Linked DNA regions of Homo sapiens: region 1 is linked to region 2. Evidence: fine-mapped expression QTL. A gene starts in region 2. The other region holds a variant in brackets. All regions are shown on one strand. Distances are between the middles of the regions.

Region 1 (14,546 bases), 480 kb after region 2:
ATGTGGAAGATGAAAGGGAGGGGAGTGGGCAGAGACACACCCTTACATAGATAAGTGGCCACAGAGAGAAAGAGAGAGACACACGCACGTGTGCACACACACACACTCCCTCGCTCACATATACATTCATGCTTTGCTCAAACAACACCTCCTTCGTGAGGCCTGCCCTTTTTTCTTTTTTTGAGACAGAGTCTCACTCTGTCATGCAGGAGTGGCGTGATCTCAGCTCGCTGCAGCCTCAACCTCCCAGGCTCAAGCAATCTTCCTGCCTTGGCCCCTGAAGTAGCTGGGACTACAGGCGCGTGCCACATCTGCTTTTTGTTTTTTGTTTTGTTTTGTAGAGATGGGGCTTTGCCACATTGCCCAGGCTGGTCTCAAACTCCTGGACTCAAGTCATCTGTCCAAAGTGCTGGGATTGCTGGCCTGAGCCACCTCATCCAGAGGCCTGCCCATTTAATGCTGCACCCCATCCCTTCCCCACACCCCTTATTCCCCTCCCTGTTCAATTTTTTTTTTTTTTTTTTTTTTTTTTAGAGACAGGTTCTCCCTCTGTTGCCAAGACTGATGATCATAGCTCACAGCAGCCTTGACCTCCTGCGTTCAAGTGATCCTCCTGCCTCGGCCTCCCAATTCCATGGGAATACAGGTGCAGTCACCACGCCCGGCCAATTTATTTACTTTTTTGTAGAGATAGGATCTTGCTACGTTGTCCAGGCTGGTCTTGAACTTCTGGGCTCAAGTGATCCCCTCGCCTCAGCCTCCCAAAGTGCTGTGATTACAAGCATAAGCCACCAAATTTGGCTCCTACTCTATTTTTCTTCTTAGTTACTTCGCACTACCTAGCAGTCTATATAGTAAGTATATTTTACTTATTTCTTTGTTTTTTGTCTAGATCCCTTAGTAGAATGTTGGGTCTGCCAGGGCAGGAGTTTTGTACATTTTGCTCACCCTCTACTACAGGGCCTAGGACAGTGCCAGGCACACAGTAGGGGCTCAATGAATAATAGCAATTAATAACTAATACACATGTAAAGCACTTTCCAAGGCAATGTTCTACGCTCAGTCCATACGTCACTTCATTTAGTCCTCACAATAACCCTAGGAGACAGGTATTGTTATTACTATACCCATTTTACAGAAGAGGAAAACCAGGCCCAGAGACCTTGAGTGACTTGCTCAAGGTCACTTGGCAGAGCTGCCATTTGAACCCCCGAGTCTGGCTCCATAGGCTGTGCTTCTGTGAGTAAATGAACAACCAGACCCCACGCACAGACCCTCACATCCACAGAGCCCCCTCCCAATGCCCGCACACACAGGTCAGACATGCAGGCAGGGAGGCAGAGCCAGCGAGAACAGGGCATGGACGGGACTTACTGATCTTGGATCCCTGGGGCAGAGAGGCGCCCGAAACACAGCGGTTAGAGTTCTGCCGTTTAGAGGGATCGAGGGTAACCCTGCAGTGTGAGGAGGGAGGTGAGGGGTGACAGGGGAGGAGGAAAGGAGGAGGAGGAGGAGGAAACGAGGAGGAGGAGGAGGAGGAAGAGGAAATGTTGGGGTACAGGAGACAGAGCAGAGTGGAAGACAGGTTAGGTCCCATCGGCCCCCCGCCCCGCCCTGCCCCTGCCATCCCCGCGGAGCTCACCTTCGGGTCAGTTTGGAGGTCAGCTTGGTGAAGAGGTTGGTGGTGGGGCGGGGCCGCCCGGCGGGCAGGGGTGCAGCCTCATGGGCCAGTGTGGGAGAGGCAGGGGGCCCATTCTGCACACCCCCACCACCCCCACCCCCTGCCCGCCGGTCCCGGACCTGGCCACCATGGAAGGTGCTGCGGATGGTGGAACCACGTGCCAGGCGGCTCCGCTCCCCTGATGGGGGTGCCAGGCTGTGACTGGAGGGGGAGGCAGGGGGCACCCGTGGGGTGCCTGAGCTGTGGGCAGAGACAGACAAGTCAGGGTGGGGGACTGAGGCAGGCCAGGGCCCCAGTCCCTTTGATTCTTCACATTCCTGTCCTGAGACCAGGGACTGCAACCAGCCTGGAACTCAGAGACAGGGCTGCAACGTACAGTTGTGCAGGCTGTGCACTATACAATCCTAGCATTATTTTACTGACTCTCTCCTCTCCTATTACCCCTCCTTCAAACTGTCCCTTCTTCAAACTCTACCCGCTCCAAATCATCTCCTATCACAACTCTCCTCTCTCTAAACGCAGCAACTGAATAGATGCACAGACATTTTTGGGTGACTTCCTTGCTATTTGCCGAAACCTCAGGAACCAAATCAACTTGGCAAACACTTTGCTATCTGAACTCTCACCATCTAAAATCAGGAAAGGGATAGATGTAAAGGTCAAGGATACCTGTATTCACTATGGTAATCTGGGCAGTGGGGGTTCCACTGTCCCAGGACCCTCCTCCAGCCCCTCGGACCCTCCTAGTCGACAGCAGGGGCCAGACCTCCATCTCCTGAGTTCAATTCTCCTGCCTCACCCTCCTGAGTAGCTGGGATTACAAGCGTGTGCCACCATGCCTGGCTAATTTTTTTTTTTTTTTTTTTTGAGACAGAGTCTCACTCTGTCACCTAGGCTGAAGGGCCATGGGGCAATCTTGGCTACTGCAACCTCTGCCTCCTGGGTTCAAGTGATTCTCCTGCCTCAGCCTCCTGAGTAGCTGGGACTATAGGCATGCAGCACCACGCCTGGGTAGTTTATGTATTTTCAGGAGAGATGGGGTTTCACCATGTTGGCCAGGCTGGTCTCAAACTCCTCACCTCAGGTGATCCACTGGCCTTGGCCTCCCAAAGTGCTGGGATTCCAGGTGTGAGCCACTGCGCCCAGCCCAGACCTCCAATTTCTATCCTCCCAGGGACTCCAGGCCCAGCCTGGATCTCAGAGAAGAATCCTGATTGTGGCAGAGGCTGTTACTTCTCCCTTAGAATCCATCCTCCCTGTTTCGTTCTTGGTAACCAAACCCCTAAGAGTATGAGCACTGCACATGGCCACCCAGCCAGAGACTACATTTCCCAGACTCTCTTGCAGCTAGAGATGGTTATGTGACCATGCTCCGGCCAATGGGATATAAGCAGAAGTGCTCTGTACCATCTCTGGGTGACGCCTTTACAAAGAGTTGTTGCTTGTCCCCTACTCTTTCCCCACTTCTTCCTGATTGGGAAATGATGGCTGCTGGTGCAGCGGCCTCAGTCCCAGAGCTGGAAACTCATTTTGGGGCTGGAAGAACTTACCTGGGTCCTTGGAGGACCCTCCGGACTAAACGTCCTTTTTATTTAAATTACTCTACCCTGGGATCTCTTTGTTTTTATTACAGCAGCTAGCTGAGTCTATACTTTTTATTTTTTGTTGTTTTTAAATTTTTTTTTAATTTTTGATTTTTTTTGTCTGAGTCTGTAATTTAACTGTTCCACTATCTCTTGAGCAGAACTGGAAGGCCATGTACTACAGTGATTACAAATAAGATTCTGGAGTCAAGTCTGGAATCTGCTTCTTGACTTACCAGCTGTGTGGCCTTGGATAAGTTACTTAACCTCTCTGTGCCTTATGTCCTCAGCTGTAAAATGGAGATATTAGGATCTACCTCACAGAGTTGTTAGGGGCACTGAGCCAGGCAATAGACATAGAAGCCTGGCATGTAGCTGCTGCTTCATGAATGTTCACTATTGTTATTTGATAACCACCAAAAAAAAGCACTCTCAAGTCACTGAATGAAGGCCTCCTAAGCATCAGACCCAGTGCCAGGTACAGGACACACCTGATCTCTACTGCATCTCTATAATGGGGCCTGGAAGTGGACAGCATCAGCCCTTTTTTTTATGAGACGGATTCTTGCTGTGTGGCTCAGGCTGGAGTACAGTGGCGCAATCCCAGCTCACTGCAACCTCTGCCTCCCAGGTTCAAGCGATTCTCCTGCCTCATTCAGCCTTCTGAGTAGCTGGGATTACATGCACATGACATCGTTCCTGGCTAATTTTTGTATTTTTAGTAGAGACAGGGTTTCATCATGTTGGCCAGGCTGGTCTCGAACTCCTGACCTCAGGTGATCTGCCCACCTCGGCCTCACAAAGTGCTGGGATTACAGGTGTGAGCCACCATGCCCGGCCAGCATCAAGCCCATTTTACCGAGGAGGAAACAGAGGCACAGGGATTTACCCGGTCATTCTGCTAGCAGTGTGAGCACAGAGGTAAGATTCGAACTCAGAACTGAGTATTCACAGAATCGTGACTTTTTTTTTTTGAGATGGAGTCTCGCTCTGTTGCCCAGGCTGGAGTGCAGTGGCGTGATCTCGGCTCACTGCAAACTCCGCCTTCCAGGTTCACGCCATTGTCCTGCCTCTGCCTCCAGAGTAGCTGGGACTACAGGTGCCCACCACTGCACCCAGCTAATTTTTTTTTTTTTTTGGTATTTTTAGTAGAGACGGGGTGTCACCATGTTAGCCAGGATGGTCTCGATCTCCTGACTTCTTGATCCACCTGCCTCAGCCTCCCAAAGTGCTGGTATTACAGGCATGAGCCACTGTGCCTGGACAGATTTGTGACTGTTAACTACCCCATTCCTCTGCCCACACCCAGTGGGAACACCTGCACCCACTAATCAGGTGCATCCCAGAGTGTGCCCTGGTGTTGGCCATCAACCTGCCCTACAGCCCTGGTGGGGGGCAGTGTCCTCATCCTGGAGCTGGCCCCATTCTAGCTGGCCTTGACCTGTGATGTGAACCAATCCCTTCCCTCTCTCTGCTCCAGCCAGTCTGAACTGGTTTCCCTCCCTTGCCAGCTGGAAGAGACCTCACAGACTCAGGCCAACAAGCCGGAAAACCAGCCAACCAGATGACGCTGAAGCTGTGACATTCTGGGGCTTCTCTCGAGTTCTAAAAATGGATCATTCAAAAAATCAATTCAGGTTCCCAAGGCTTGTAGGCGGAGAACAGGGCCAACTGCTTTCCTGGTGCTTAAGACTAATTAATTAAGTGGGGAGGATTTTCAGGGGGGTACATGGGTCGATTCTGCCAAGGGCAGGGCAGATACACTCACTCTCTGGTCCCCATGGCACCAGCCTCCAATGCCTATCATCTCAGATCAAGGGAGGTCCTGTTCACCTACCCCCTACTTCCCACCCCTCACCCTGTTGCTGCCCCCTCCGTACCTGTTTTCTTTCCCATTTGGCAACAGTGACGGGCGCTCAGCCCCCGGGCGTTCTGTGCAAACGTAGGTGTTTCTGCGGGTCATCATGCTAGGAGGGAGGTTGTTCTGCAGGAGACACAGCCAGGAAGGGAGTGAGGGGGTGAAGACATGCCCCTGAGCTTCTCCCTCTTCCCTTCTCTGCCCTCCCCATCGATGAATAAGTCAGGGGCTCATGTGGGAACCCAGGGTGAGTAGGAGATGGTGAAAGGTCCCAAAGATGTGAAAGGTTCATGAGTAATCCCAGCCACCGAGGCTGAGTCAGGGGAGACCCCTGGAGACCGGAGAAGAGGGGGGCACTGAGGGAAAACGAGGCAGGGAAGGTTTCCAGGGGGCATCCTTGTCCACCGCTCTTCTCCCAGCAATGCCCACCTTCTTGAGGTCCAGCCCAGCCACACCAAACGTTTGCTAATGTACTTATTCATGCCACATTCTGTCACTGTGACTAGCCTGTGCACTGGCTGTCTCACCTGTTAGAACATTACTCCTACCTTTTCCCCTGACTCACTCCTACATATCTTTCAGGTGTCAGTTCATAATCTACCACCACCCCCGGCCCCAGGCTGAGTCACGTGCCTCCTCCTTTGGGTTCCCACAGGCCCCTGGGCTCCCCACTGCAGCTTCAATCACTGTGCTGTCAATGTCTGTTCTCATATATGTCCCCATCCCATACTGGGCTGTGAGCTCTGGGAACACAGGGAATATCAGGATTATGCTGCCTCATAAACATGTTAGGAAGAGAGCCCTCTTTTTCTATTCTCTGGAAGTTTGTCTAAGGTTAGTGTTATTTCTTCTTTAAGTGTTTGGAAGAATTCCACTGGTGGGAGTCATCCAAGCCAAAAATTTTCTTTATAGGGAAGGTTTTCAGTTACGAATTCAATTTCTTTAACAAGAATATAAGACTGTTCAGGTTTTCTATTTCTTCTTGTGTCAGTTTTGATACAGTGTGTTTTTAAAGTAATGTGTCCATTTCATCTAAGCTGTTAAATTTATTGGCACAAAGTAGTTCCTAATATCATCTTACTATCTTTTAATGTTAGAACAAAGTTCCCCTTTTCATTGTGGATACTGGTGATTCATGTTTGCTGTCTTTTTTCCTTAATTGATTTTTACCAGGGGTCCATTGGATTTTATTTATTTATTTATTTTTTTGGACAGAGTTTCACTCATTTTGCCCAGGCTGGAGTGCAATGGCATGATCTCAGCTCACTGCAACCTCCACCTCCCAGATTCAAGTGAACCTGCCTTAGTCTCCCGAGTAGCTGGGATTACAGGTGTGGACCACCACATCCAGCTAATTTTTTGTATTTTTGGTAGAGATGGGGTTTCACCATGCTGGCCAGGCT[G/A]GTCTCAAACTCCTGACCTCAAGTGATCCACCCGCCTCAGCCTCCCAAAGTGCTGGGATTACAGGCATGAGCCACCACGCCCAGACTGATTTTATTAATCTTTTCAAAAAACCAACTTTAGGTTTTGTTGCTTTATTGTACCTCTTCTTTCTCCTTCACTGATTTATTCTCTTTAATGCCTCCTCCCTTCTACTTTTTTTGAGATGGGGTCTTGTTCTGATGCCTAGGCTGGAGTGCAGTGGGGTGATCATGGCTCACTGCAGCCTCGACCTCCTGGCCTCAAGTGGATCCTTTCACCTCAGCCTCCCAAGTAGCTAGAACCTCAGGCATGTGCCACAACACTTAGCTAATTTTTATTTTTGGCAGAGACAGGGTCTATGTTGTCCAGGCTGGTCTTGAACTCCTGGGCTCAAGCAATCCTCCTGCCTCAGCCTCCCGAACTGCTGGGATTACAGGCATGAGCCACCAATTCCGGTCCCTTCTACTTTCTTTGAGGTTTATTTGCTTTTCCTTTTTTACCTTCTTAAGGTGTGGGTTTCGTTTAGCAATAACAATAGCTCTCATTCACTGAGTGCTTACTGTGCCAGTATGTGAAGTACTTCACGTATGAGATCTTACAAGATCCTCACAATGACCCAGGTTCTTTAATGAGCCCATTTCACATAGTGAGATATCAAAGATCAGAGAGGTGAAGTTACTTGCCCAAGGTCACACGGCTCATTAATGTAATTCAAACTCTACGTGGCTTCAGAGTCCCGGCCACTTTCTCAAACTGCCTCCACCCTTTTTCTCTTTTTTAAGAGATAGGATCTCACCATGTTGCCCAGGCTGGTCTCGAACTCCTGGCCTCAAGCAATCCTCCCACCTCAGCCTCCCAAGTAGCTGGGACTACATGTGTGTGCCACCATGTCCAGCTCTGCCTCCACTCTCCTGTTCCTATGTTGAGGATATTTTCGTACTTTGCTGTTCTTGGGAACTCAGATGCAAAAAAGCCAAGTCCTACATTTCCCAGAATCCTTTGCAGCTCAGGTTCTGCATATAAGTTGGGTTCTGCCAATCTTTGCATTCATGAAGATTTGGAAGGTGGAAATGGGGCAGCAGCTGCTCTCCTGCCTGCTTTGACTTCAGCTCACACAGGCAAGGCTATGAGATGAAGGTCTTTGCTTCAGCAGGGCCCCAGTGCCTATTGTCCAGCCCTCTGGGCATCAAGAAGCTCTTCTGATGGAGGATGAAGTTTTTGAGTCTTGGGTTACAGCCATGACAATGTGGTTTTTTGTTTTGTTTTGTTTTGAGACAGAGTCCCACCCTGTCACCCAGGCTGGAGTGCAGTAGGGCAATCTCAGCTCACTGCAACCTCCGCCTCCTAGGTTCATGCCATTCTCCTGCCTCAGCCTCCCGAGTAGCTGGGACTACAGGTGCCCGCCACCAAGCCCGGCTAATTTTTTGTATTTTTAGTAGAGATGGGGTTTCACCGTGTTAGCCAGGATGGTCTCGATCTCCTGACCTCGTGATCCGCCCGCCTCAGCCTCCCAAAGTGCTGGGATTACAGGCGTAAGCCACCGCGCCTGGCCCTAATTTTTGTATTTTTTGTACAGATGGGATTTTGCCATGTTGGCCAGGTTGGTCTTGAACTCCTGACCTCAAGTGATTCACCGCCTCGGCCTCCCAAACTGTTGGGCTTACAGGCATGAGCCACCATGCCTGGCCTAACAATGCACTCTTGAATTCACCAGTGCTGGGGCAGCCTCAGAAGGAGCAGCTCCCTTGGTGGGTCAGTTCTGTGGTGTGGTTGTGACTGTTGTTCCTACAAATCCCACCCATTGTCCGCTCCTCCAGTCCTTCCTACAATTTTGTTTTCTTTTTTCTTTAACCACCTCATCCTCTCCTTCTTTGGCCCTGCCGCTCCCATCCATTCTCTGGGTTGTGGATCATTCTCTGACACACGGGCCTCAGAGGCTGCATTGTGAAGCTCCAGGTCTCGGGGCTGGGGAAGAGCCAAGGGGCATGAATTTGTACTTATCCGGAATACTCAGGACACACAGGCATCCCGGCCTCCCTCCTGTGCCACCTGCCTGAAGTTGAGCTGATGCCTTCAAGATCTGTTTCCCCAAGGCCCTTCTGCTGTTAGGTAGCCAGTGAGCTGTCCTCAGGTGCACCCTCTCCTGGCCCATCCCCACGGGGTTCCCTCACAACATTCCACTCCCCTCCCTGTACTGACCCCGGGCTCTGCACAGCCCTGGAGTCCAGGGCCCTGAACCTGGACTAGCAGTCCTCACAGGTGGTGGCAGGGTCACAGCTAGCCAAACCAAACACAGCCGGTCATTGCCAGTTGCTGCTGGCTACTGCTGGTCATGGCCAGACACTGCTGGTCAAAGCCTGTCACAGCCAGTTAAGGCTGGTCATGGCCAGTCACCAACAGTCAGGGACAGTTAAAGCTGGTCATAAGTGGTAATAGCCAGACACCACTGGTCACAGCCAGATACCGTTGGCCAAGGGTTGTCACGGCCAGTCAAGGCTGGTCAAAGCCGGTCACAGTCAGTTGCTGCTGGTTAATACTGGTCATGGCTGGACACTGCCAGTAAAGGCTGGTTAATGCTGGCCACAGCTGGCTGCCACTGGTAACAGGTGGACACTTGTGGTCAAAGCTTCAGTGGGGCCCTGTCAGGCACTGCCAGTGAAGGCCAGTCACAATCAGTCAAAGCCGGTCAAGGCTGGTGAATGCTGGTAACAGCCAGACACCACCAGCCACCACGGCTGGGTGCCTCCTGATGGTCAGGACCTCTGGAGAAACACCCCTACCTCGCAAACAGCCATGCAGTGAGACCTTGGTTTGCCTTGGGTGTTTAGAACCAAAATAAACTGGAAGTACCCAGGGGCACCAAGAGCACTAAGAAGAAGTTAAAAAGATGAATGTTCTCAAGAACGTACGAGAAAAATTAGTATTTAAAAACTTTTTTGTTTGTTTCTTTGAGACAAGGTCTCCCTCTGGAGACTCCCAGGCTGGAGTGCAGTGGCACGATCTTGGCTCACTGCAACCTCCGCCTCCTGGACTCAAGTGATCCTCCTCCCTCAGCCTCCCAAGTAGCTGGGACTACCAGCACGTGCCACCACCACACCGGACTAATTTTTCTATTTTTTGTAGGGAAGGGGTCTCACCATTTTGCACAGGTTGGTCTCGAACTCCTGAGCTCAAGCAATCCACCCACCTCAGCCTTGCAAAGTGCTGGAATTACAGGCGTGAGCCACCATGTCTGACTAAAAACTTAATTTTTATGACTTTTTGTTTTGTTTTGTTTTGTTTTGAGACAGAGTCTTGCTCTGTCGCCCAGGCTGGAGTGCAGTGGCGTGATCTCGGCTCACTGCAACTTCTGCCTCCTGGGTTCAAGCAATTCTCCTGCCTCAGCCTCCTGAGTAGCTGGGATTACAGGCGTGCACCACCACGCCTGGCTAAGTTTTGTATTTTTAGTAGAAATGGGGTTTCACCATGGTGGCCAGGCTGGTCTCGAACTCCCGACCTCATGATCCGCCCACCTTGGGCCTCCCAAAGTGCTGAGATTATAGGCATGAGCCACCGTGCCCAGCCAACTTATTTGTTAAAGAGCAAAATCTTATGGTAAAGGATAACTATAAGTATTTTGTGTCTGTGTGGGTGGTGACCCATGCTTTTTTTTTTTTTTTTTTTTTTTGAAACAGAGTCTTGCTCTGTCACCAGGCTGGAGTGCAGTGGCACGATCTCGGCTCACTGCAACCTCTGCCTCCTGGGTTCAAGCAATTCTCCTGCCTCAGCCTCCTGAGTAGCTGGGACTACAGGCATGCGCCACCACAGCCAGCTAATTTTTGTATTTTTAGTATAGATGGGGTTTCACCATGTTGGCCAGGTGGTCTCGATCTCTTGACCTCATGATCCACCCTCCTCGGACTCCCAAAGTGCTGGGATTATAGGCGTGAGCCACCGCGCCTGGCAGGTGACCCATACTTTTAAAAGTTTAGGCCCACAATTGGCTCAGACTCACACCTGTGTGCACCCTGGTCAAGGCTGGGACTTGACTGGTAGTAACCTGCCGTGACCAGCCTCGAAAGGCCAAGGGCACAGCCACGTGGGGCGGCTACTGAACATGTGCAGAGCAGAAGAGCAGGGAGTGGGACCGAATGTAGATGCCGGAAGAGCTGAGGAGCTGGGGAAGCTGCTGCTGCTTCCCACGACTTTTTTTTTTTTTTTTTTGAGACAGAGTCTTGCTCTGTCACCCAGACTGGAGTGCAGTGGTATGATCTTGGCTCACTGCAACTTCTGCCTCCCGGGTTCAAGCGATTCTCCTGCCTCACCCTCCAGAGTAGCTGGGACTACAGGTGCATGCCACCATGCCCAGCTAATTTTTTGTATTTTTAGTAGAATTGAGGTTTCACTGTGTTAGCCACGACGGTCTCGATCTCCTGACCTCATGATCTGCCCGCCTTGGCCTCCCAAAGTGCTGGGATTACAGGCATGAGCCATTGCACCTGGCTTTTTTTTTTTTTTTTTGAAATGGAGTCTCACTCTGTCACCTATCCTGGAGTGCAGTAGCGCAATCTTAGCTCACTGTAGCTTCCGCCTCCTGGGTTCAAGCGATTCTCCTGCCTCAGCCTCCCAAGTAGTTGGGATTATAGGTGCCCGCCACCACGCCCAGCTGATTTTTATATTTTTAGTAGAGACGGGGTTTCACCATATTGGCCAGGCAGGTCTCAAATTCCTGACCTCAAGTGATCCGCCCACCTCTGCCTCCCAAAGTGCTGGGATTACAAGCGTAAGCCACTGTGCCTGGCCTGATTTTTTAAATTACTATTAATATTTTATTTATTGATTTATTGAGACAGGGTTTTGCTCTGTCACCCAGAATGGAGTGCAGTGGCGGGAACACAGCTCCCTGTAGCCTCAACCTCCTGGGCTCAAGTGATTCTCCCACCTCGGTCTTTCGAGTAGCTGGGACCACAGGTACATAACATGATGCCTGGCTAATTTTTTTGATTTTTAGTTGAGATGGCGTCTGCTATGCTTCTTGAACTCCTGGCCTCAAGTGATCCTCCCGCCTCGGCCTCCCAAAATGCCAGGATTACAAGCATGAGCCACTGTGCCTGGCCTTTCCCACATTTTTAAAAGCACTTAATTTCCTGTATTAAATCCTTTCTGCCAAGAGTACGTTCTGCACTTCTTTGACACAGAACACTAATTTATACGCTAACATCAAATGTTAGTGTATAAACTGAGCTCAGGCAAACAGAGGCACTCGATAAATGTTTGTTGAATGAATGAATGGGTAGAAGAAGGAGTTGGTAAGAAGGAGTTCCGTCTGGGGAATGAGATGAAGGCAGGGCCTGAGGAATGTGGCCCAGGTGGCGCCCCCAGCCCTGCCCCCCAGCCCTGGTCACTCACGGGGGTGCTCGTGCTGTCCTTCCGCCGCTCTGGGATCTCTGCCTTGTTGGGGTTGTGGGCGCTGCTGACCATGGGGCTGGAGGGGGGCAGCCCTCGACTCCCACTCCCCGCGGTGCTGCAGCTCGCCTTCCGGCCTGGCAGCCGCTCCTCCTTCAGCTCCGCCTCCCCCGTGCTCGTCGGGCTGCGTTTGGGGTGCAGGGGTGCAGGGGATGGGCCACCTGGGGGAGGGGGTACCGTTTAGAGCTGGCATCACCACGGAAACCCAGAACTGACTCTGGGGGATCGTTGGAACCTGAGAATTCCTCACGTGGGTTGCAATCTCTGTGTGGGCCATTCTGACAATATCTGTCAAAATTACCTCAAGATTACCAACGCACATATACTGACTTAGAAACTCCAAATCAATGACATCATGCACATACAGGCCATTCATTGCACCTTCTTTTTTTTTTTTTTTTTTTTGAGACAAAGTCTGGTTCTGTTGCCAGGCTGGAGTGCAGTGGTGCGATCTCCGCTCACTGCAACCTCCACCTCCTGGGTTCAAGCAATTCTCCTGCCTCAGCCTCCCAAGTAGCTGGAATTACAGGTGTGTGCCACCCCACCTGGCCTGTACCATTAGACTGGGAACAGCCTAAATGCCCCTTAGTAGAGGAATGACTAGATAAGTCAAGGTATTTCCACAGTGGAAAATTATGCAGCTATAAAAAAGAATAAGGAAGCACTTTATGCACCAGTACAGAATGATCTTCATGACGGACTGGAAAGTAGAAAAGGCAAGACAAGAGATGGGTCAACAATGTGTTATCATTTGTCTACAAAAGCAAAAAAGTGTGTATCTATATCTACTTGCTTATATATGAATATCTCCAAAGGACTATAACTTGTTTCAAAAGGGGAGAATTTATTGTTTTTATATATCTTAAGTTTCCTTCTTTTTTTTAATTTTTTTATTGAGACAGGATCTCACTCTGTTGCCCAAGCTGAAGTACAGTGGTGTGACCTCAGCTTGCTGCAACCTTGGCCTCCTAGGCTCAAGCCATCCTCCCACTTCAGCCTCCCAAGTAGCTGGGACTACAGGCACACACTACCATGCCCACCTAATTTTTGTATTTTTTTTTGTAGAGACAGGATTTCGCCATGTTGTCTAGGCTGGTCTCAAACTCCTGGACTCCAGCGATCCTCCCACCTTGGCCTCCCAAAGTGCTGGGATTACAGGCGTGAGCCACCGCACCCGGTCCCATATTTATCTCTTTACATGTTTGTTTATGAATAAAATCTCTCCAAAGGAATTCATATTAAAACCCATAACAGGGCCAGGCGCGGTGGCTCACGCCTGTAATCCCAGCACTTTGGGAGGCTAAGGCGGGTGGATCACAAGGTCAGGAGATTGAGACCAGCCTGGCTAACATGGCAAAACCCTGTCTCTACTAAAAATACAAAAATTAGCTGGGCATGGTGGCATGCACCTGTAATCCCAGCTACTTGGAAGGCTGAGGCAGGAGAATCGCTTGAACCTGGGAGGCAGAGGTTGCAGTGAGCAGAGATCACACCATTGCACTCCAGTCTGGCAACAGTGCGAGACTCCGTCAAAAAACAAAACAAAAACAACAACAAAAAACCGTAACAGTTGCTGCATTTGAGAAACTGGGAGCTGGGGATATGTGTTGGATGAAGACTTTTTCACTGTCTATCCTTTCCAAACTAACACATTTTCAAGGATGTTATTGTATGAACAATTTCAAAAGCAACACAAAATAATTCTGGTCTCTAGGAACATCTTAGGAATCTACTGTTTTAGAACCCGGGGGTGAAAAGTGATCTCAAACTTGAGAGGGTCAGAAGGTCTGCTTGTTACATCCTCAGGAGCGATACATGCTCAGAAGTCCCAGAACCACAAGCTGAGAGCTCTACAATGACAATGACAGATACCTGGCACCTGCCAGCAATCCCTCTCTGAGAATCCCTGGAACTCAGGTCTCAGTGTGGGGAGTTCTGAAGGTTACCACGTTCTAACCATATGATACCAAAGTCACAAGCTCCTTAGGAACTTTCTGGGCACGCCCTGTCATTTTACAGGTGGGAAAGACAAGACGCAGGGGCAGGGAATGGTTTGACCTCCAGCAATGGTGGGGGTAGGGCAGAAGCACCACTTCCCGTGTGGGGCTCATGCTGGGTCTCAGATTCCCTGACACCTCTCTCCTCCCTCACTTCAGTGTGGAGGGGAGGTCAGAGCGCAGGCTTTCAGCAGCCACTTTGTGCAATGTGTCCTCCTGTGCCCCCATTACAGCAGATTAATCCCAACTGGACTCGATATCAGAGCTCCATCCTGATCCTGATGAGTGGACCAAGGAGATTCTAGCTAACACTTGGGCTGGATTCTTTTTTTTTTTTTTTTTTTTTTTTGAGACACGGCAGTCTGGCTCTATCGCCCAGGCTGGAGTGCAGTGGCACGATCTGGACTCATTGCAACCTCGGCCTCCCAGGCTCAAACCATCCTCCCACCTCAGCCTCTCAAGTAGCTGGGATTACAGGTGCACACCACCATGCCCAGCTAATTGTTTTGTTTTGTTTTTGAGACAGAGTCTTGCTGTTGCCGCCCAGGCTGAAGTGCAAT
Region 2 (14,546 bases):
CCAGGAGGTCAAGGCTGCAGTGAGCTGTGATTGTGCCACTGCACTCCAGCCTGGGCAACGGAGAGAGACTCTGTCTCAAAAATAAGATAAACTGAAATTAAAAAATAGGCTGGGCTGGCCGGGCGTGGTGGCTCACGCCTGTAATCTCAGCACTTTGGGAGGCCGAGGCGGGTGGATCACGAGGTCAGGAGATCGAGACCATCTTGGCTAACACGGTGAAACCCCATCTCTCCTAAAAATACAAAAAATTAGCCAGGCGTGGTGGCGGGCGCCTGTAGTCCCAGCTACTCAGGAGGCTGAGGCAGGAGAATGGCGTGAACCCGGGAGGCAGAGTTTGCAGTGAGCCGAGATCGTGCCACTGCACTCCAGCCTGGGCGACAGAGCGAGACTCTGTCTCAGAAAAAAAAAAAAAAAAAAAAAAAAATAGGCTGGACCGCGGCCGGGCGCTGTGGCTCATGCCTGTAATCCCAGCACTTTGGGAGTCCAAGGCCGGTGGGTCATGAGATCAGGAGTTTTGAGACTAGGCTGGCCAACACGGTGAAACCCCGTCTCTACTAAAAATACAAGAAAATTAGCTGGGTGTGGTCTCGGGTGCCTGTAATTCCAGTTACTGGGGAAGCTGAGGCAGGAGAATTGCTTGAACCTGGGAGGCAGAGTTTGCAGTGAGCCAAGATCATGCCACTACACTCCAGTCTGGGTGACAGAGTGAGACTCTGTCTCAAAAAAAAAAAAAAAAAAAAGGGTTGGGCAAGGTGGTTCACGCCTGTAATCCCAGAACTTTGGGAGGCTGAGGCAGGCAGATCACTGGAAGTCAGGAGTTCAAGACCAGCCTGGCCAACATGGTGAAACCCTGTGTCTACTAAAAATACAAAATTTAGCCAGGCTTGGTGGCGTATGCCTGTAATGCCAGCTACTCAGGAGGCTGAGGCAGGAGAATCGCTTGATTGAACCTGGGAGGCAGAGTTTGCAGTGGGCTGGGGTTGTGCCACTGCACTCTAGGCTGGGAGACAGCAAGACTCCATCTAAAAAAAAAAAACAGAACTGGGCTGGGCACAGTGGCTTATATTTGTAATCCCAGCACTTTGGGAGGCTGAGGTTGGAGGACTGCTTGAGCCCAGAGTTTGGGACTACAACAGCTGAGGTAGGCGGATCACTTGAGGTCAGAAGATGGAGACCAGCCTGGCCAGCGTGGCGAAACCCCGTCTCTACCAAAAATATAAAAAATTAGCCAGGCGTGGTAGAGGGCGCCTGTAATCTCAGCTACTCAGGACGCTGAGGCAGGAGAATCGCCTGAACCTGGGAGGCGGAGGTTGCAGTGAGCTGAGATTGCACCACTGCACTCCAGCCTGGGTAACAGAGCGAGACTCCGTATCAAAGAAAAAGAAAAAAGAAAAAATGCTGGAGGGGCCACTTTAGATAAGCCCTGAGTTGGGGCTGGTTTGGGGGGAACATGTAAGCCAAGATCAAAAAGCAGTGAGGGGCCCGCCCTGACGACTGCTGCTCACATCTGTGTGTCTTGCGCAGGAGACACTGTCGGACATTCGGGAAGGTGCGCCGCTAGGGGTCCACCTGCCTTTTGTGGGCTACTCCTACTCCTGCATGGCCCTCAGGTAAGCACTGCCCTGGACGGCCTCCAGGGGCCACGAGGCTGCTTGAGCTTCCTGGGTCCTGCTCCTTGGCAGCCAATGGAGTTGCAGGATCAGTCTTGGAACCTTACTGTTTTGGGCCCAAAGACTCCTAAGAGGCCAGAGTTGGAGGACCTTAAATTTTCAGATCTATGTACTTCAAAATGTTAGATTGAATTTTAAAACCTCAGAGTCACAGACTGGGCTTCCCAGAATCTTGTAACCATTAACTTTTACGTCTGTAGTACACAGAGCCACAGGACTTCAGAACTTGGAAAATATGAAGTTTAGACTTTTACAATCAGTTGTAAAAGAATGCAAATTCTTTGAATCAGCCATATAACAATAAGGCCATTTAAAAGTATTAATTTAGGCGGGCCGCGGTGGCTCACGCCTGTAATCCTAGCACTTTGGGAGGCCAAGGCAGGTGGATCATGAGGTCAGGAGATCGAGACCATCCTGGCTAACACGGTGAAACCCCGTCTCTACTAAAAATACAAAAAAATTAGCCGGGCATGGTGGCGGGCGCTTGCGGTCCCAGCTACTTGGGAGGCGAGGCAGGAGAATGGCATGAACCCGGGAGGCGGAGCTTGCAGTGAGCCGAGATCATGCCACTGCACTCCAGCCTGGGCGACAGAGCAAGACTCCGTCTCAAAAAAAAAAAAAAAAAAGTATTTATTTAGGCCGGGTGTGGTGGCTCACGCCTGTAATTCCAGTGCTTTGGGAGGATGAGGTGGGTGGATCACCTGAGGTCAGGAGTTCGAGACCAGCCTGACCAACGTGGAGAAACCTCATCTCTACTAAAAAACAAAATTAGCCAGGCGTGGTGGCATATACCTGTAATCCCAGCTACTCAGGAGGCTGAGGCAGGAGAATCAGAACCCAGGAGGGGGAGGTTGTGGTGAGCTGAGATCGTGCCATTGCATTCCAGCCTGGGCAACAAGAGTGAAACTTCATCTCAAAAAAAAAAAAAAAAAAGTACTAATTTACAGGCTGGGCATGGTGGCTCACGCTTGGAATCCCAGCACTTTGGGAGGCTGAAGTGGACGGATTGCTTCAGCCCAGGAGTTCAAGACCAGCCTGAGCAACATAATGAGACCCTGTCTCTACAAAAAATTGAAAAAATCGTGCCAGGCATGGTGGTCTGTGCCTGCAGTCCTAGCTACTCAGGAGTCTGAAGTAGGAGAATCACTTGAGCCTGGAGTTTGAGGCTTCAGTGAGCCATGATAGATTCCAGCCTAGGCAACAAAGTGAGACCTGGTCTCAACAAAAGTATTAATTACACAAATAATGCATTGCTTATCACAAGTAAATTAGAAAATACAGATAAGGAAAAGGAAGTTGATATCTCGTGAGCTCACCAGATGGCAGTGGTCCCTGGCTCACACGTGTACTGACACATGTTTAAATAGTGGAGAACAGGTGTTTTTTTGGTTTGTTTTTTTCCCCTTCCTCATGCTACTTTGTCTAAGAGAACAGTTGGTTTTCTAGTCAGCTTTTATTACTGGACAACATTACACATACTATACCTTATCATTAATGAACTCCAGCTTGATTCTGAACCGCTGCGGGGCCTGAACGGTGGGTCAGGATTGAACCCATCCTCTATTAGAACCCAGGCGCATGTCCAGGATAGCTAGGTCCTGAGCCGTGTTCCCACAGGAGGGACTGCTGGGTTGGAGGGGACAGCCACTTCATACCCCAGGGAGGAGCTGTCCCCTTCCCACAGCTGAGTGGGGTGTGCTGACCTCAAGTTGCCATCTTGGGGTCCCATGCCCAGTCTTAGGACCACATCTGTGGAGGTGGCCAGAGCCAAGCAGTCTCCCCATCAGGTCGGCCTCCCTGTCCTGAGGCCCTGAGAAGAGGGGTCTGCAGCGGTCACATGTCAAGGGAGGAGATGAGCTGACCCTAGAACATGGGGGTCTGGACCCCAAGTCCCTGCAGAAGGTTTAGAAAGAGCAGCTCCCAGGGGCCCAAGGCCAGGAGAGGGGCAGGGCTTTTCCTAAGCAGAGGAGGGGCTATTGGCCTACCTGGGACTCTGTTCTCTTCGCTCTGCTGCTCCCCTTCCTCAAATCAGGAGGTCTTGGAAGCAGCTGCCCCTACCCACAGGCCAGAAGTTCTGGTTCTCCACCAGAGAATCAGCATTCTGTCTCCCTCCCCACTCCCTCCTCCTCTCCCCAGGGACAGTGAGGTCCCAGGCCCCACACCCATGGAACTGGAGGCCGAGCAGCTGCTTGAGCCACACGTGCAAGCGCCCAGCCTGGAGCCCTCGGTGTCCCCACAGGATGAAACAGTAAGTTGGTGGAGGGGAGGGGGTCCGTCAGGGACAATTGGGAGAGAAAAGGTGAGGGCTTCCCGGGTGGCGTGCACTGTAGAGCCCTCTAGGGACTTCCTGAACAGAAGCAGACAGAAACCACGGAGAGACGAGGTTACTTCAGACATGGGACGGTCTCTGTAGTTACAGTGGGGCATTAAGTAAGGGTGTGTGTGTTGCTGGGGATCTGAGAAGTCGATCTTTGAGCTGAGCGCTGGTGAAGGAGAAACAAGCCATGGAAGGAAAGGTGCCAAGTGGTCAGGCGAGAGCCTCCAGGGCAAAGGCCTTGGGCAGGTGGGAATCCTGATTTGTTCCTGAAAGGTAGTTTGGCTGAATCATTCCTGAGAAGGCTGGAGAGGCCAGCAGGAAACAAAACCCAGCAAGGCCTTTTGTCGTGAGGGCATTAGGGAGCTGGAGGGATTTTGAGCAGCAGAGGGACATAGGTTGTGTTAGTGTTTGAGCACCAGCCCTCTGGTCCCTGTGTAGATTTAGAGGACCAGACTCAGGGATGGGGCTGAGGGAGGTAGGGAAGGGAGGGGGCTTGGATCATTGCAGGAGCTATGGGGATTCCAGAAATGTTGAGGGGACGGAGGAGTAGGGGATAAACAAGGATTCCTAGCCTGGAACCAGTGCCCAAGTCCTGAGTCTTCCAGGAGCCACAGGCAGCCTTAAGCCTGGTCCCCATACACAGGCTGAAGTGGCAGTTCCAGCGGCTGTCCCTGCGGCAGAGGCTGAGGCCGAGGTGACGCTGCGGGAGCTCCAGGAAGCCCTGGAGGAGGAGGTGCTCACCCGGCAGAGCCTGAGCCGGGAGATGGAGGCCATCCGCACGGACAACCAGAACTTCGCCAGGTCGGGATCGGGGCCGGGGCCGGGGCCGGGATGCGGGCCGGTGGCAACCCTTGGCATCCCCTCTCGTCCGGCCCGGACGGACTCACCGTCCTTACCTCCCCACAGTCAACTACGCGAGGCAGAGGCTCGGAACCGGGACCTAGAGGCACACGTCCGGCAGTTGCAGGAGCGGATGGAGTTGCTGCAGGCAGAGGGAGCCACAGGTGAGTCCCTCATGTGTCCCCTTCCCCGGAGGACCGGGAGGAGGTGGGCCGTCTGCTCCGCGGGGCGTGTATAGACACCTGGAGGAGGGAAGGGACCCACGCTGGGGCACGCCGCGCCACCGCCCTCCTTCGCCCCTCCACGCGCCCTATGCCTCTTTCTTCTCCTTCCAGCTGTCACGGGGGTCCCCAGTCCCCGGGCCACGGATCCACCTTCCCATGTAAGACCCCTCTCTTTCCCCTGCCTCAGACCTGCTGCCCATTCTGCAGATCCCCTCCCTGGCTCCTGGTCTCCCCGTCCAGATATAGGGCTCACCCTACGTCTTTGCGACTTTAGAGGGCAGAAGCCCTTTATTCAGCCCCAGATCTCCCTCCGTTCAGGCCTCACCAGATTCCCTCCGGGATCTCCCTAGATAACCTCCCCAACCTCGATTCCCCTCGCTGTCTCTCGCCCCACCGCTGAGGGCTGGGCTGGGCTCCGATCGGGTCACCTGTCCCTTCTCTCTCCAGCTAGATGGCCCCCCGGCCGTGGCTGTGGGCCAGTGCCCGCTGGTGGGGCCAGGCCCCATGCACCGCCGCCACCTGCTGCTCCCTGCCAGGGTACGTCCGGCTGCCCACGCCCCCCTCCGCCGTCGCGCCCCGCGCTCCACCCGCCCCTTGCCACCCGCTTAGCTGCGCATTTGCGGGGCTGGGCCCACGGCAGGAGGGCGGATCTTCGGGCAGCCAATCAACACAGGCCGCTAGGAAGCAGCCAATGACGAGTTCGGACGGGATTCGAGGCGTGCGAGTGGACTAACAACAGCTGTAGGCTGTTGGGGCGGGGGCGGGGCGCAGGGAAGAGTGCGGGCCCACCTATGGGCGTAGGCGGGGCGAGTCCCAGGAGCCAATCAGAGGCCCATGCCGGGTGTTGACCTCGCCCTCTCCCCGCAGGTCCCTAGGCCTGGCCTATCGGAGGCGCTTTCCCTGCTCCTGTTCGCCGTTGTTCTGTCTCGTGCCGCCGCCCTGGGCTGCATTGGGTTGGTGGCCCACGCCGGCCAACTCACCGCAGTCTGGCGCCGCCCAGGAGCCGCCCGCGCTCCCTGAACCCTAGAACTGTCTTCGACTCCGGGGCCCCGTTGGAAGACTGAGTGCCCGGGGCACGGCACAGAAGCCGCGCCCACCGCCTGCCAGTTCACAACCGCTCCGAGCGTGGGTCTCCGCCCAGCTCCAGTCCTGTGATCCGGGCCCGCCCCCTAGCGGCCGGGGAGGGAGGGGCCGGGTCCGCGGCCGGCGAACGGGGCTCGAAGGGTCCTTGTAGCCGGGAATGCTGCTGCTGCTGCTGCTGCTGCTGCTGCTGCTGCTGCTGCTGCTGCTGCTGCTGCTGCTGGGGGGATCACAGACCATTTCTTTCTTTCGGCCAGGCTGAGGCCCTGACGTGGATGGGCAAACTGCAGGCCTGGGAAGGCAGCAAGCCGGGCCGTCCGTGTTCCATCCTCCACGCACCCCCACCTATCGTTGGTTCGCAAAGTGCAAAGCTTTCTTGTGCATGACGCCCTGCTCTGGGGAGCGTCTGGCGCGATCTCTGCCTGCTTACTCGGGAAATTTGCTTTTGCCAAACCCGCTTTTTCGGGGATCCCGCGCCCCCCTCCTCACTTGCGCTGCTCTCGGAGCCCCAGCCGGCTCCGCCCGCTTCGGCGGTTTGGATATTTATTGACCTCGTCCTCCGACTCGCTGACAGGCTACAGGACCCCCAACAACCCCAATCCACGTTTTGGATGCACTGAGACCCCGACATTCCTCGGTATTTATTGTCTGTCCCCACCTAGGACCCCCACCCCCGACCCTCGCGAATAAAAGGCCCTCCATCTGCCCAAAGCTCTGGACTCCACAGTGTCCGCGGTTTGCGTTGTGGGCCGGAGGCTCCGCAGCGGGCCAATCCGGAGGCGTGTGGAGGCGGCCGAAGGTCTGGGAGGAGCTAGCGGGATGCGAAGCGGCCGAATCAGGGTTGGGGGAGGAAAAGCCACGGGGCGGGGCTTTGGCGTCCGGCCAATAGGAGGGCGAGCGGGCCACCCGGAGGCACCGCCCCCGCCCAGCTGTGGCCCAGCTGTGCCACCGAGCGTCGAGAAGAGGGGGCTGGGCTGGCAGCGCGCGCGGCCATCCTCCTTCCACTGCGCCTGCGCACGCCACGCGCATCCGCTCCTGGGACGCAAGCTCGAGAAAAGTTGCTGCAAACTTTCTAGCCCGTTCCCCGCCCCTCCTCCCGGCCAGACCCGCCCCCCCTGCGGAGCCGGGAATTCCGAGGGGCGGAGCGCAGGCCGAGATGGGGAATGTGGGGGCCTGCAGAGGACCCTGGAGACGGAGGCGTGCAGAAGCTCAGTCTCGGGGCGGAGGCTTCGCGCCCTTAGTCCTCCTGGACGGCCCGTTACCTTCTGCGTTGTCCCGATGGGGAAACTGAGGCCCTGAGCCAGAAGCACACGCTGGGGGGAGGCAGAAAGCGCGGCCAGAGGCGGAGGGAAAACAAAGGGAGAATCACAGACAGACGGGAGGGGGACGGACACACACAAGGGGACAGAGACCCGAGTGGAGAGCTGGATCTCGCCTTCCCGGCGTGGGGCGCAGGGTCGGCCAGAAAGAAGATCGAGAAGAGCGGGGAGTGGGGGCGAAAAGGGGGGACAGGTGGGGGAGGAGGCTGGGGAAAGCCCGAGGGAGGAAGAGAGGGAGGGAGGAACTTCCCAAAGTTGCAAAACATGGCTACCTTGCCTGCGGAGCCGAGCGCGGGGCCGGCGGCTGGGGGGGAGGCGGTGGCGGCGGCGGCGGCGACCGAAGAGGAGGAGGAGGAAGCGCGCCAGCTCTTGCAGACTTTGCAGGCGGCCGAGGGTGAGGCGGCGGCGGCGGCCGGGGCCGGGGCGGGCGCAGCGGCTGCGGGAGCTGAGGGCCCGGGATCCCCGGGCGTCCCCGGGTCGCCCCCCGAGGCCGCTTCCGAACCGCCCACGGGCCTCCGCTTCTCGCCCGAGCAGGTGGCGTGCGTCTGCGAGGCGCTGCTCCAGGCGGGCCACGCCGGCCGCTTGAGCCGCTTCCTGGGCGCACTGCCCCCGGCCGAGCGCCTACGTGGCAGCGACCCGGTGTTGCGCGCGCGGGCCCTGGTGGCCTTCCAGCGGGGCGAGTACGCCGAGCTCTACCGGCTACTCGAGAGCCGCCCCTTCCCCGCCGCCCACCACGCCTTCCTGCAGGACCTCTACCTGCGCGCGCGCTACCATGAGGCCGAGCGGGCCCGCGGCCGCGCGCTTGGCGCAGTGGACAAGTATCGACTGCGCAAGAAGTTCCCGCTGCCCAAGACCATCTGGGACGGCGAGGAGACAGTCTACTGCTTCAAGGAGCGCTCCCGCGCAGCGCTCAAGGCCTGCTACCGCGGCAACCGCTACCCCACGCCGGACGAGAAGCGCCGCCTGGCCACACTCACCGGCCTGTCGCTCACGCAGGTCAGCAACTGGTTCAAGAACCGGCGACAGCGCGACCGGACCGGGGCCGGAGGCGGCGCGCCCTGCAAGAGGTGAGGGGCCTCGGGCGGCGCAAGTCCAGCTCTCCCGGGGACATCCCGTCCACCAGCCCTCTTCCCCCGTGCCCACTGCTGGGGCCGGCGCGCCGAGGTCCTCGGACATCTCCCGGGACCAGCTCACAATCTCAGGCGCCCGCGGGGCGCGGGGACTAAGTGTGGACGGGACAGGCACCCGCCCGGGCCCTCTCCCCGCACGCGTCTCCTCTTCCAGCGGCTCCATTCCGAGCTCCTTCCCAAATCCCATCGGTGTTGGGGAATCACACTGCGGGGGGCACTAGAGGGACTGAGGAAAAAGGACAGGGCCTGTGGCCACTCCACTCCGCGTAGGGGCTGCCTCCCAGCCCCCTTTCTTCACTGACCGTTACTCTTACCCACCCGCCCCCACACTCCCTCCGGGCCCGGACGGCGTGGTCCGTCTTCTGCCTTTGTTGTGAAACGTGAACCTTTCCCAGCTCCGGTTTCCCTGTAACCCAAACCCTTCTCCTCCCACCCTGAGCGCCGGCCTCTCCCTTCTCTGACGCCCCGCGGGGAGGGCACCGGGAACTGGGCTGGCGGCTGCTGCTCCCTCTCTCCAGGCCACTCGCCCGCTTTCCGCCCAACCAAGGAACTTTTAGGGCAACCTGGGAGCTCAGCCTCTGGGGACCCGAGGCCGAGGTGGGGGAGAGCAAGGGCCTCTTCCCTCCCCAGCGCTTCTCTGCAGTGGTGTCCACGCAGGGCTTGCAAAAGGCCCTGGAGTTTGGAGTGGTCTCAGAGAGGCGTCATAACCCCTGGAATGATCCACCGAAACTTGGGCCAGGGAAAGGTGGGGGAGCAGCTGGCTGGCTATGCGGGAGGCCCCACAGGCTAAGGGACCCCAGCTGACAGCCATTTCTCCGGCCAGCGAGTCTGATGGGAATCCCACGACTGAGGACGAGTCCAGCCGAAGTCCTGAGGACCTGGAGAGAGGGGCGGCCCCAGTGTCCGCCGAGGCCGCTGCCCAGGGCTCCATATTCCTGGCAGGGACCGGCCCTCCCGCGCCTTGCCCGGCTTCCTCCTCCATCCTGGTGAACGGGAGCTTCCTGGCAGCCAGCGGCTCCCCAGCAGTGCTCCTCAACGGGGGCCCCGTCATCATCAACGGCCTGGCCCTGGGCGAGGCCTCCAGCCTGGGCCCGCTGCTGCTCACTGGGGGCGGGGGTGCCCCTCCACCGCAGCCCAGCCCTCAGGGGGCCAGCGAGACCAAGACCTCTCTGGTCCTGGACCCTCAGACAGGGGAGGTGCGGCTGGAGGAGGCTCAGTCGGAGGCCCCTGAGACCAAAGGGGCCCAGGTGGCTGCTCCGGGACCAGCCCTTGGAGAGGAGGTCCTGGGGCCCCTGGCCCAAGTGGTGCCTGGCCCCCCGACGGCTGCCACCTTTCCTCTGCCCCCGGGGCCAGTGCCTGCTGTGGCTGCCCCACAAGTGGTACCGCTCTCCCCACCCCCGGGGTATCCCACGGGCCTGAGCCCCACCTCCCCACTATTGAACCTGCCCCAGGTAGTACCCACCTCACAGGTGGTGACCCTGCCCCAGGCTGTGGGGCCCCTGCAGCTGTTGGCAGCCGGGCCAGGCAGCCCTGTGAAGGTGGCAGCTGCAGCAGGCCCTGCCAATGTGCACCTCATCAACTCCGGGGTGGGCGTGACTGCCCTGCAGCTGCCTTCGGCCACTGCCCCAGGTACCCCCATCTCCCTCCCTCAGGCCTAGGTGAGAGCCGGGGAGGGGTGCAGTCATCTCGGAGAGGGAGGGGCTGTCCCTGGGCTCCTGGAGGGCATCTCATCCCTGGCAAGTCCCAGTGCCCCAAGGCCCACCACAAGGCTCCCTCCGCCCGCCCTCCAGCTGCACAGTCTCCACTTCTCTCTGGCTTGGCCTGCTCTCCTGGCTCTCACCTGCGCTCGGTCCCTCTCTCCCCACAGGAAACTTCCTCCTGGCCAACCCTGTGTCTGGCAGCCCCATCGTGACGGGTGTGGCCCTGCAGCAGGGCAAGATCATCCTCACCGCCACCTTCCCCACCAGCATGCTCGTCTCCCAGGTCCTGCCGCCAGCCCCCGGCCTGGCCCTGCCACTGAAGCCAGAGACGGCCATCTCCGTGCCTGAGGGAGGCCTCCCGGTGGCCCCCAGCCCTGCTCTCCCAGAGGCTCACGCCCTAGGCACCCTTTCTGCACAGCAGCCACCCCCCGCCGCTGCCACCACCTCCAGCACCAGCCTGCCCTTCTCCCCTGACTCCCCTGGCCTCCTGCCCAACTTCCCGGCGCCCCCACCAGAGGGGCTGATGTTGTCACCCGCGGCCGTGCCTGTCTGGTCAGCAGGGCTGGAACTAAGCGCAGGAACAGAGGGGCTGCTGGAAGCGGAAAAGGGGCTGGGGACACAGGCCCCCCACACCGTGCTGAGGCTGCCAGACCCCGACCCTGAGGGGCTGCTCCTGGGGGCCACCGCAGGGGGTGAGGTTGACGAGGGGTTGGAAGCTGAGGCCAAGGTTCTGACCCAGCTCCAGTCGGTGCCTGTGGAGGAGCCCTTGGAACTGTGACCCAGTGTGGCCCCGTGGCCTCTCCCGACATTGGTGCTGAAGACGCAGGGACAGGAATGGGAGGGGGGAGCCCCAGAAATGCGGTTGCTGAAGACCCCAGTCACCACATCCTTCTGCCTGGGTGGCCTCTCCAAGCCCTGGTGGTGCTGGGGGTTGTATCCCCGGCCACCTCCTGTCCAGGTCTCCATCCCCCTTTGGATGGGAGGCCTCTCTGTTACAGCCCTCCCCATGCTGTGCCCTGCCATATACGTGGGGGACTCAGGGTCCTGACTCAGGGGCCCTGCCCCCTCCACTTGGTACTAGCTGTAAGCGGAACACCCTGCCCCAGGGCCGGACTTCCAGCCCCCAGAGCCCTCTCCCTGTCACTCCCTGAAACACTATTAATAGCTCTGCCGATAGCTGGTGTTGTCACAACTGCCTGGAATCCGAAGGTGGAGGACAGGCAGCCCCGCGCCCCTGAGACTGGAGACCCTCCCCAGTGTGGCATTTCCTGCCAGGGGCGGGGGGTGGGGCAGCTGTGGGGAGACGGGGGTCTTCCTTCACCAGCTCCCCTCGACTCAAGCCCTTGTCCTCATTATCCGGCCCAGACCAAAGATTCCCTCATCCCTGGGGGCAGCCCTGCCGCTGTGTCTCCTTTGTATCCTAAATCTTTATTTTTCTAGGACATGTTATGCCTCCATTTTCAATTAAAATAAAGTTATCGGATTACACCACCACCAGGGGTCTGGGGTGCCTTCCAGTGTCTGTCCAAAGCAGCGCTGAACACAGAGCCCACCTCGAGACCTGGCCTTCCCATTGCTGCCTCCCGAGGGGAAGAGGGGTTTGCATTCAGATGCACAGAGTGGCTGGGGAGGGGGTGGCACTGAGGCCTCTTGCAAGCCACAGGCCTCCAGATGAGGGTGGACGGAGCACCCCAGTGGGGCAGCAGGGGGACGCAGGAGGGCCTGCCCTTGTCTCTCTTGCTGGTAACAAAGGTTCCACTTGCTTTATTTTATTTAAAACAATAAATAGTCTAAAAATAGAACAGGAGAGGGAGGAGTAGGGTGAGGTGAGCATGAACAGGGTTGCAACCGAGTGGCTCTGGGGTGGGGAAGGGAAGGGGAGAGGGGTGGGTAAACTTCACCTTCCGACACCCCGCATTTCATTTTGGGTTTCCTTCCTAAGCCTGGGGGAGAATCAAGGCAGCTGTGGGTGACTCTGGTGCTCCAGGCAAATGTGCCCAGCGGTTGGGGCTAATCAGTGCCCCCCTCCCCAGTCCCATGGGACCTGCATTCTCAGGGGCTGGAGGCCCAGGAGGGACAAGTTCATCGATGGGTCCTGGCTTCCAGCAAGAGCCGCGGTTGCCATGAGGGGTGAGGGGAGCGAGGCGAGGGGCCGCCCTCTCACTGGAGGTGCGGGGGCAGCGGCAAGGCCTTCTCGGCCAGCAGCTGGTAGAAGGGCTTTGGCGTCTCCCAGTCCTCAGCCTCGCTGCTGGAGCCGTCCTGCTTCACGATGCGGTTGTGCTGGCGGCTGAACCTGCGAGCCTTGGTGCTGGGGAGACGGTGGCAGGATGGCCTGGCTTCCTCACTCGCCTCCCGGGCATCCCTGTACCACTCCCAATCCTGTGTCCCCGCAGGGGCCTGGGCCACCGTTTTAGCCTCTATTGGGCGAGCCTTGGGTCCACCAAGTCCCAGTCAGTAAGATGGGACTCGGCCAAGGGCTCTGGGATGTGTTCAAAGTCAGGAGCCAGGGCAGGTGGCAGCTCCTTGAAGGTGGAGGGGACAGGATTCGGGGGAGTCGAGGTGGCCAAGCGACAGGAAAATCAGACCACGCCCCGAGAAAGTCGTGTGGCAGAGACAGCAAAAGAATTGAGGCAGGGGTCCATGTCTGGGCTCAGCTGTTCCCCAGCTTAGCTGTGGTGGGGTACCCCTACACCTGTGTCACCCCCAAGGGTTTCATAAGAAGGGGCAACACGCAAATTCCTCGGCCCAGTCTCCCATGCCATGACACCCAAGGCTCCAGAGACAGAGCAGGGTTCCGGGGTAGGGAGGCTCTTCCACCCCCCACCCACACCTCGGGGCCGGAGCCTCTCACCAGTATGGCCTCCGCTCCTGCTGGGTCATCACCCGCCACAGCTGGGCCAGCTCCTTGGTGGCAGCTGTGGAAGCGGTTCCAGGGCAGGATCTGGGACAGGAAGGAGGAGGAGGTAAGGAGAGGTCTGCAGGACACCCTGACTGAGAACTCAGACCCTTCCTAGCCTTGTGGGTCTACAAGGCCTCCAAGACCACCCTCTGGAGCTGAGGAGGCAGAGGGAGCTGGACTCAGCGGCTGTTCACAAGGGGGCACCTGGTGTCCCAGGAGAGTGCAGGGGACCTGTGGGCACCGCTCCTGGCCCCCACATCTGGATCTTCCTGTAAAGGAACTAGCTGTTTTCCACTGTGGCTTGGGGGGGGCCTCCCCATCCCCTGGCTCCAGGCCTGGCAGTGACTGGTTCAGGGTTGGCACCGGATCTACCAAAGTCAGTCCCAAGGACTTTGCTTAAAACCTTAGAGACCTCTCCTCCTCCCGGGGTCGCTTGGGTGGGGGACAGGACCCGAGCCTGTGCCTCCTGGGGTGACCCCACCTGCCAGAGAATGAAGCCAGCCCGGAAGACAGAGGAACTGGGTGAAAAGGACAAAGATTCCAGACAGCCTGTGTGAGCCCTAAAACCAGCTATGTCTCAAGGCAGTCTATACCCGCCCTTGTTTTCTAGGTTATATAAGCCAATTCATTTTCTTTTCTTGCTGGGCCTGATGGCTCACACCTGTAATCCCAGCAATTTGAGAGGCCGAGGCAGGCAGATCACTTGAGGTGAGGCATTCGAGACCAGCCTGGCCAACATGGTGAAACCCTGTCTCTACTAAAAATACAAAAATTAGCTGATGGCGCGCCTGTTATCCCAGCTACTCAGGAGGCTGAGGCAGGAGAATCTGAGAGGCAGAGGTTGCAGTGATTTGAGCCCGGGAGGCAGACATTGCAGTGAGCTGTGATTGTGCCACTGCACTACAGCCTGGGCAATAGAGTGAGACTCTGTCTCAAAAAACAAAACAAAACAAAAAAAACTCCTTTTTTTCTGAAGTCTAAAGCCTGAATTGGGTTTCAGCGCTGACAATGGATGGACCCTGTCCAATACAATGGGGCCGGGTTCAGTTCTGGGGAAGAACTGTGGTCCACGAAGGGTTTGTGGGGTCTCGGAGGGGGAAAAAGTGTCAGACAGTTGTGAGGAGCGGCATGGCCAGGCTGCGGGCAGAGAACGAAGCCAGGGCCTTCCCCAGGGCCAAAGACGACCCCCTACCCACCGGATGTACTGCTTCCGGTTCATCCTGCAGAACATGATGAAGCCGTTGACACACTTCTTCTTCATCTGGGGTGGGCAGGGGCCTTTCTTCTTCTCCTTGGGCTTCACAGGGGCCCTGGCTACTTGGCCCTTCGTGGCCTTTTTCTCAGCTGCCAGCAGGGGTGAGGCCAGC

What was found. PIP is the estimated chance that this variant, and not a neighbour inherited with it, causes the effect.
Region 1: its variant is fine-mapped to the expression of SIX5 in esophagus muscle (GTEx, PIP 0.96).

What each region holds. Positions count from the first base shown.
Region 1 is chr19:45,285,051-45,299,596 of GRCh38, reverse strand. It overlaps MARK4 (microtubule affinity regulating kinase 4), which reads right to left. Exons shown (of 17, transcript NM_001199867.2): 13 at 11,933-12,150; 14 at 5,145-5,248; 15 at 1,643-1,921. Among named protein-coding and RNA genes, the nearest start is that of CKM, 31 kb to the left of the region's middle. RefSeq lists a silencer at 7,761-7,963. The variant G/A (reference allele first, on the strand shown) is at 6,526.
Region 2 is chr19:45,762,013-45,776,558 of GRCh38, reverse strand. It overlaps SIX5 (SIX homeobox 5), which reads left to right and starts at 7,307. Exons shown (of 3, transcript NM_175875.5): 1 at 7,307-8,517; 2 at 9,404-10,209; 3 at 10,448-11,774. The coding sequence starts at 7,715. The coding sequence ends at 11,058. It overlaps MEIOSIN (meiosis initiator), which reads right to left. Exons shown (of 15, transcript NM_001310124.2): 13 at 14,376-14,546; 14 at 13,132-13,221; 15 at 12,018-12,588. The coding sequence ends at 12,441. It overlaps DMPK (DM1 protein kinase), which reads left to right. Exons shown (of 15, transcript NM_004409.5): 9 at 1,525-1,610; 10 at 3,807-3,918; 11 at 4,631-4,788; 12 at 4,894-4,991; 13 at 5,163-5,209; 14 at 5,499-5,588; 15 at 5,919-6,842. The coding sequence ends at 6,071. It overlaps DM1-AS (DM1 locus antisense RNA), which reads right to left and starts at 8,763. Exons shown (of 2, transcript NR_147193.1): 1 at 8,428-8,763; 2 at 4,676-5,069. RefSeq lists enhancers at 4,411-4,968, 5,968-6,047, 6,488-6,597, 6,758-6,837, 8,329-8,888 and 2 more and silencers at 5,418-5,927, 6,168-6,327, 6,852-7,036, 6,888-7,427, 7,788-8,007 and 1 more.